Homo sapiens: one gene and its partner. The protein of the gene in region 1 purifies or fractionates together with the protein of each later gene. This does not show direct contact. Each region holds a gene or a part of one and is shown in the gene's direction. Other genes may lie near its edges.

Region 1 (3,430 bases):
ACATCCATGGCAGCAGATGGACAAGGCGTCTCCTGGGGTGGCATACACCCCCCTTGTGGATCCCTGGATTGAGCGGCCCTGCTGTGGGGACACCGTGTGTGTGCGAACGACCATGGAGCAGAAGAGCACAGCTAGTGGCACTTGTGGCGGTAAACCTGCAGAAAGGGGTCCCCTAGCTGGGCACATGCCCAGCTCCCGACCCCACAGGGTGGACTTCTGCTGGGTACCAGGCTCAGACCCAGGCACCTTTGATGGCTCCCCGTGGCTACTGGACCGCTTCTTGGCCCAGCTGGGCGATTACATGTCCTTCCACTTTGAGCACTATCAGGACAACATCAGCCGTGTCTGCGAGATCCTCAGGCGCCTAACAGGCCGAGCCCAGGCCTGGGCAGCCCCCTACCTTGATGGGGACCTGCCCCTGCCTGACGATTACGAGCTCTTCTGCCAGGATCTCAAGGAAGTTGTTCAAGACCCGAACAGTTTTGCTGAGTACCATGCTGTGGTTACCTGTCCCCTGCCCCTGGCCTCCAGCCAGCTGCCAGTGGCCCCTCAGCTGCCTGTGGTGAGGCAATACTTAGCTAGGTTCTTAGAGGGCCTGGCACTCGACATGGGTACTGCCCCCAGGTCTTTACCAGCCGCCATGGCCACCCCTGCTGTGTCTGGGTCCAACTCTGTATCTAGAAGTGCTCTGTTCGAGCAGCAGCTGACCAAGGAGAGCACCCCTGGGCCCAAGGAGCCCCCAGTCCTGCCCAGTTCTACATGTAGCTCCAAGCCTGGTCCTGTGGAACCAGCCTCTTCCCAGCCAGAGGAGGCAGCCCCCACACCTGTCCCTAGACTGTCGGAGTCAGCTAATCCTCCTGCCCAGAGACCAGACCCAGCTCATCCAGGAGGTCCAAAACCCCAGAAAACAGAGGAGGAGGTTTTGGAGACAGAGGGAGACCAGGAGGTGTCCTTAGGTACCCCACAGGAGGTGGTGGAGGCCCCGGAGACCCCAGGAGAGCCACCACTTTCTCCTGGGTTCTGAACACAGCCCAGGTGGGAACAATGCTGCCCCTCATGATGAAGTGGCCTGTGTGGCTTGAGCGCCCCATAGTCCCCAGTCAGAGCAGAGTGGTGTCCCCAGATGACTTCAGACCCCATAGCTGGGCAAGATGCGCTTGTTTTGGACTCTGCGCTGAGCAGAACCAGCTCCCCCAACTCCAGCAGAGCTTGACCTCCGCCCTGTGCCCTTTCCCTGCTGCTGGCTCTCTGCTGCATCCCTGCCCGTCTTCTGGGAGTGCCGTCTCACCCAGGCCTGCTCCCACGAGGGGGTCGTTTTGTAGATCAACTCTCAGCAGATAGTTGCATCATCTTTGTCACCTCCACCCCCATAAAACACCCCCCTTGGTGTCTTCCACACTGGCTGGGACTGAACTGGGTCTGCCACGTCTGCCCTGTTGGGACCTCGTTCCTGTATGGGGTTTCTGTGTCTGTCCCCCTAGCCCCACCCTCTCTGCTCCCTGTGACTTCTGTCCCAGCTGGAATGTGAGGAAGGCTGCCTGGAGGAAGTGGCCACTTTGATTCTGGGGGATGAGTGGGATAGCATCTTGGCAAAGAATGATGTTTCCTGTGGGATTACCAGCAGTTCTGGGCAGCTGGAAGGTTTGGATGCAGGAAGGTGGGATGCAAGCCCCTTGCCAGGCTCAGCTGCAGGCATTCGCCCTTTGTGTGTTAACACTGTAGCTCTAATCGTGCCTGGTGTTCTGAAGCAGGCTCCTCTTCCCTGCTGCTGTGCTGCCATCCCCTGCTCACTCCGCACTCGCATGCATTGCGGATTCAGCACTTAAGCCCTAGTGTGTAAATGACTTGGATCTCCCTCCTGGCAGACTGTGACCCTCAGCACAGGGGCTCTGTCTTAGTCAGCTCTGTGGCCTGGTACACAATTGGTGCTCATTAAACACGTGTTGGATTACTGGCTGAGGTGGTGCAGTGGCTGCCTACCAGCAAGTCTTTGTTTCCCATTCTGTCAGGAGCAGAGGCCTGGCCATGAGCATTCCAGGTCAGCATTGCAGCTGTGGTTTCTGGCAGGGGCTTTGAGGGTCCAAGGGTCTGATCAAAGAAGCTGGGTGGGGCTGAGTAGGGGGTGGGTGGCTCTGCAGGTAGAGAACTGACTTCCGAGAGCTGTAGGTGAAGTGAGGACCAGGCAGCAGTCCAGAGCTGTGAGGCCCCAGGCCCAGAGGAATGGAATGAAGAAAGACCTGTTCCACACAAGGAGGGGTTTTCTAGTGGAAGCTGAGCTTGGAAGCTCCTGGAGCCAAGTTTACCACAGGATAGGCAGGTACAGCCGCCCAGTGTGTGCAGTGTGTGCCCACTCTGGTGCTTGGACAAGAAGTTCAAGTCCCTTTCAGGTTTACAATTGTGAAAACAACAAAACAACACCTTCCTGGAAAGTAGGAAGAAAAAGCAGAAATGTGAATTGGAAATACAGCCAACTATTTTAGGAAAAACTAATTAGCAAGCATCTGATTAAACTTATTCAGAAACTGGCCGGGAGCAGTGTCTCACACCTGTAATCCCAGCACTCTGGGAGGCCAAGGTGGGTGGATCACCTGAGGTCAGGAGTTCAAGACCAGCCTGACCAGCATGGAGAAATCCATCTCTCCTAAAAATACAAAATTAGCCAAGTGTGGTGGTGCATGCCTGTAATCTCAGCTACTTGGGAGGCTGAGGCAGAAGAATTGCTTGAACCCAGGAGGCAGAGGGTGTGGTGAGCCGAGATCACGCCATTGCACTCCAGCCTGGACAACAAGAGTGAAACTCCATCCCAAAAAAAAAAAAACAACAAAAAACAAAAACCTTATTTAGAAAAATATAAATTGTTGGGATTATTTTATGGTAACTATCACTAGAAAAGGCTCTGGGTTCAGATGGTTTTATGTGTGAGTTATTTCAGGGCACAGATACCTTGTAGGTAAAACAACTGGAAACCTTGGAAATAGGTGGGAAGCTATTTTTAGAAAGCAGGTATAGCCCTGGTAGCAAAGCAAGTGAGCTGGCAGAAGAAACCCATTTTCAGTCTTGATTCTGGTCAGATGTGAGAAGTCCCTGGATGTCCTGGCCCAGCCCCATGCTTCTGTGCCAGGTCACAGCTGCCCTCCGTCCGATGACTCAGGCCCCATCCCCCCTTTTGTGGGTTGGGTCAGACTGCTCCCTGATGCCTACCTCCAGTGCACTGTGGCCTGGCTCACCTGTGGGTCTGGCAGTAGAACCCAGAGTTGCTCTCTAGGATGGACAGCCTAGTCACCCAGCTGACCTTTACCCTGTCCCACAGGCTTCTGGACAGGCCACCTTCCCCATCTCCCTTTAGTGGACCTGAAGTGGATACTCCAGCCTGGGATTGCTGCCTTCTCTTTTGAACCCTGTCCTATTGGGGCTTTGGGGCTTTTGTGCC
Region 2 (3,816 bases), on another chromosome or scaffold:
TAACTTTATGGGCTCAAGTGATCCTTCTACCTCAGCACCCCAAGTATCTGGGACTACAGATGTGTGCCCCACACCTGGCTAATTTTTAAAAATATTTTAATAAAGACAAGATCTCACTATGTTGTTGCCCAGGCTGGTCTCAAACTCCTGGGCTCAAGCCATCCACCCACCTTGGCCTTCCAAAGTGTTGGGATTACAGGCATGAGCCTGAACTCGAGTTGAATAGAATATGGGGAGCTTGGACTGGGGGTGTCACTGTGTGAAGGTCGCCTCCAGGAGCTGATGGGGAGAGGTTGTACTTACCGTGTTGTTCTGTTTCAGGTATTTTGCACTTGGACTGCTCTATCATTATAATAACCAAGATGCTGCTGCAGTTCAGGTGAGTCTAGAAGGGTTTCCACATGATTTAAAAATCAGCACCATGTAAGTAATACTTAGTGTTACTTAAAAAAAATTCACAAGTTGATAGAGACCACTTTTGCCTGATCTACACCCTTTTATACAGAATAAAAATGATTCTGTTTTAGAAAGTGAATTCCTGGAGAAATGTTGGCCAAGAGTTTTCTTCTCATTGTCTTTCCATCTCCTTAAAGAACATTATCAAGACTGAGTTTTTGAAAACTTAAGAAATGAAAATATGATCTCACAGAGTTCCAAGTCATAATATATCACTACCCTTATCAGAAAATTTAGGCAGTGAATGATAGTCGGATTTACCATTTCCACTGTTAGTGATGATCACTGTTGCCAATGAGCTGGGTACATTATTATCCTTGTGTCACCTGTGACAAAACCAAAGCTGATGCATGCCAGTTGCTTGCCCGAGGCCATGTGTCCGTGGTAGATCTGGGATCTGAACCGCGCTCCATTGGCCTGGCAGGGGTCCTGCACCCTAATCAAAATGGCATCGATTTATTAGCATTGTCACATTTTGTATCTTACATCTTGCTACTGATCTTGAGAAAAGCCTCATCTCACACTCTCAGGGGGAGACTTTCTCCCCTTCGTTATTAGTTATGCATTTGTACTGCACCGTGTTGTTTCCTGATGTGCCTTTTTGCTTTATTTTGTGAGGGGCCAAGAGCATCAGCCATGTTCCCCAAGCTAAAGTTAACCTCATGACTCTGGCAAGGCTGAACATGTATTTAGTGTTTGATTGCTTTGTGAGACTATTGTGGTAACCTGATTGCAGAGCAGAACAACAACAACAACAAAAAATGGAGTTGGGTGAATTAACACGTACCCAATGGCCAAGAGTAGATTTGGGTGTCAGTGATAAAATTTTCATTTTCAAAAACCTGGTGTTCTCAGTTACAGCTTTATATAAGTATAGTAATAACTTTAGCAGAGCTGTAGAGAGATAGATTTGCAAACTTGAAGTGATATGGGATAAATCTCCATACGTGGTAGAATTTTATATAAAATGGCATATTTCAAGGTATGTGTGATTATTTGGTTTCAGCAATTCTGTGTTGAAGAAACTAGTATCATAAAAAATGTTCGTATGCTGACATCAGAATTCCAGAATTCATATGCCACCCCTGTTTCTGGGCTCCTTCCTGGTGCTGTGGCTTGGAGGGGTGGTGCTGTGTATGGGTGGGTGAGGCACGCCATGCAGGTATTGCAGAAGGAACCCACGCAACCGTCATCCTTTCTACCCCCAAGTGATGCTGCCTCATTCTGGGGTCCTGAAAGTAGGCTTCACTTAACATGGTAGGGAAGTTTCTGGCTGAAAAAGCAAAAGGCTTTTATCACTGGAGTCTATCCTGAGCCCCCTGTGCAAAAGGCAGTGTGAACTCAGGGGACAGAATCACTGAAGCTTTTGTAAAAGCACAACATCTGCCTATCACAGTCCAAAGGGGACTTCAAAATCAAGAATGTCTGTGACGGAGAAGATGGAAACAGAGCCTGGCTGATGGTTGTAGGTGAATCTTCTCTGTGTCGAGATGTTATCAGTGACCGTTTTCTTTATTTCATGAAGAAACATTTTTAATATATTCACCTCCCTGCATATATTCTGTTTACTGTGTTATTGTTAAAAAAAGAAAGAAAGATAAAAGAACCTAGAGCTTAATTTTTTTTTTTATTTCTTGGACTATGTCTTTTTACATTTCTTTATTTCTCCAAAAAAACTAAAATTTAAGCATTTACAGTTTTTCCAACTACTTTAAAAGGTATTAAAAAGCCAAATAAGTAAACATATGCCATTTCTCAACTAATTCTGAGATATGTGCCTTTATGATTGTTTTTTCTTTTCTTTTTCTTTTTTTCTTTTTGATTCCTTTCCAGTTGTGGGTGAACATTGTGAATGGCGATGTCCAGGACTCCACACGCTCAGACCTGTATGAATACATCGTGGATTTTCTTACCTACTGCTTAGACGAGGAACTAGTGTGGGCCTATGCTGATTGGGTCCTGCAGAAAAGTGAAGAGGTTTGTGCTTCGTAAAAATGCATTCTCTTTGGTTGGGGGAGGTGGTAAAAACAGACCCCAAAAGCTTTGCTTTTAGGAGGGGAAAAGAAAGCTACATTTCAACCTCCTCCTCTGTTTTTTGTTGTTGTTATTATTCCCCTTTTAATACCTTCCCTTGAGCTCTCTGGATTCTAGCTCTAGGGCAGTTCTGCATCTTGCTGCTGAGACATTCCATTGAGAATCCCCTTGCTGGGGCAAGTCACTTGTATAGAAAAGCAAGACATAGCCAGCTTGCATTTTTAGCATCTTCTTAAGAACTTGTGTCTGTGAACCCCGCTCCTCGACCCCTCAGAAGTCTGACACTGCTGTTTTCTGGAGCAGGATTAGGTGGTTGCCCTGAAGGACTTGATCTTTGGGAGGAGGAAGCACCCAGACCTGGGCCACACTGGGCCCTCATCCCTGCTCCCACCACTGCCAACATGGAGCTTGTGGGCCTGGAGGAGGGAGGGGAGCCATGAGCAAGACTCGGCCTGTCCTGGAGGCTGAGAAATGCTGGCAGTGAAAAAGCACCTGTTGGCTAGAGGGAAGGTAGCAGGCTCAGGACAGTATCCTTAGTAAAGCCCCACAGGTGACCACAGGTGACTGGGAAGAAGACAGCAAGCATTTCAGTTCTCATCGTGAAAAACGTATACGCTTCCATGGCTCCCCTTGGAGAGACAAAATGAGCTTTCTGATGCAGGACGTTGGTCCTGAATGGAGAGTTTCTGAGTGCTGCATCTGCCTTTCTAAGACCTGAGTTGGAATATATTCTCATATCCTCCGTGGTGCTGGCTTCCCTGGAAAATCAGAGCCAGGCACTTGCACTTTGCATACTTGTTTCTCCATCTTTACTTTGCCTCTGTGCACACGCCTGCAGAGCACATCCTGACCTGCTCACACACACCTACAACATGGATCTCAGTGCCGTTGCAAGGTTTAGGCTTCTCCCAATGCTTATGGATGATAACAGCAGATACTGCACGGTGGACAATCCCCTGACAAAGGTCATCGCTTAAACATCATAGCAGCCCCTCAGTGGGCATTAGCTACAGATGAGGAAACTGAGGCTATAGTTGGTAGAGCTGGGACACAAATCCAGGCTTATAGAATCCAAAATTCATACCATAATACATGATACGTGAATGTATTGGCCTTGGAGGGGGGAGGTGCGTGTGTGCGTGCACATGATAGAACCTCCCACATGTAAGTGCTCAGGGGAGGTGCAGTGGAGAGCTGCTTTCCTGCCTGCCTCACTGTCCTTTCCTTGAACCAGAGGATTGGACCAGTGCCTCCACTTGATGGACACAGGAAGGCAGCCCGGAAACTTACTCAGGGACTGGAAGCTCAGATCTCAGATTAACCATC

What was found.
Region 2: the proteins of RTL10 (region 1) and TGFBRAP1 purify together in Homo sapiens (affinity purification with mass spectrometry; one large-scale study listed by BioGRID and IntAct). This does not show direct contact.

The regions. Positions count from the first base shown.
Region 1 is NC_000022.11:19,848,761-19,852,190, reverse strand, and holds part of RTL10 (protein Bop), read left to right. Parts: coding exon 1-1,024; 3' UTR 1,025-3,430. UniProt on the Homo sapiens protein: Could induce apoptosis in a BH3 domain-dependent manner. The direct interaction network of Bcl-2 family members may play a key role in modulation RTL10/BOP intrinsic apoptotic signaling activity.
Region 2 is NC_000002.12:105,274,177-105,277,992, reverse strand, and holds part of TGFBRAP1 (transforming growth factor-beta receptor-associated protein 1), read left to right. Parts: intron 1-321; coding exon 322-379; intron 380-2,289; coding exon 2,290-2,433; intron 2,434-3,816. UniProt on the Homo sapiens protein: Plays a role in the TGF-beta/activin signaling pathway. It associates with inactive heteromeric TGF-beta and activin receptor complexes, mainly through the type II receptor, and is released upon activation of signaling.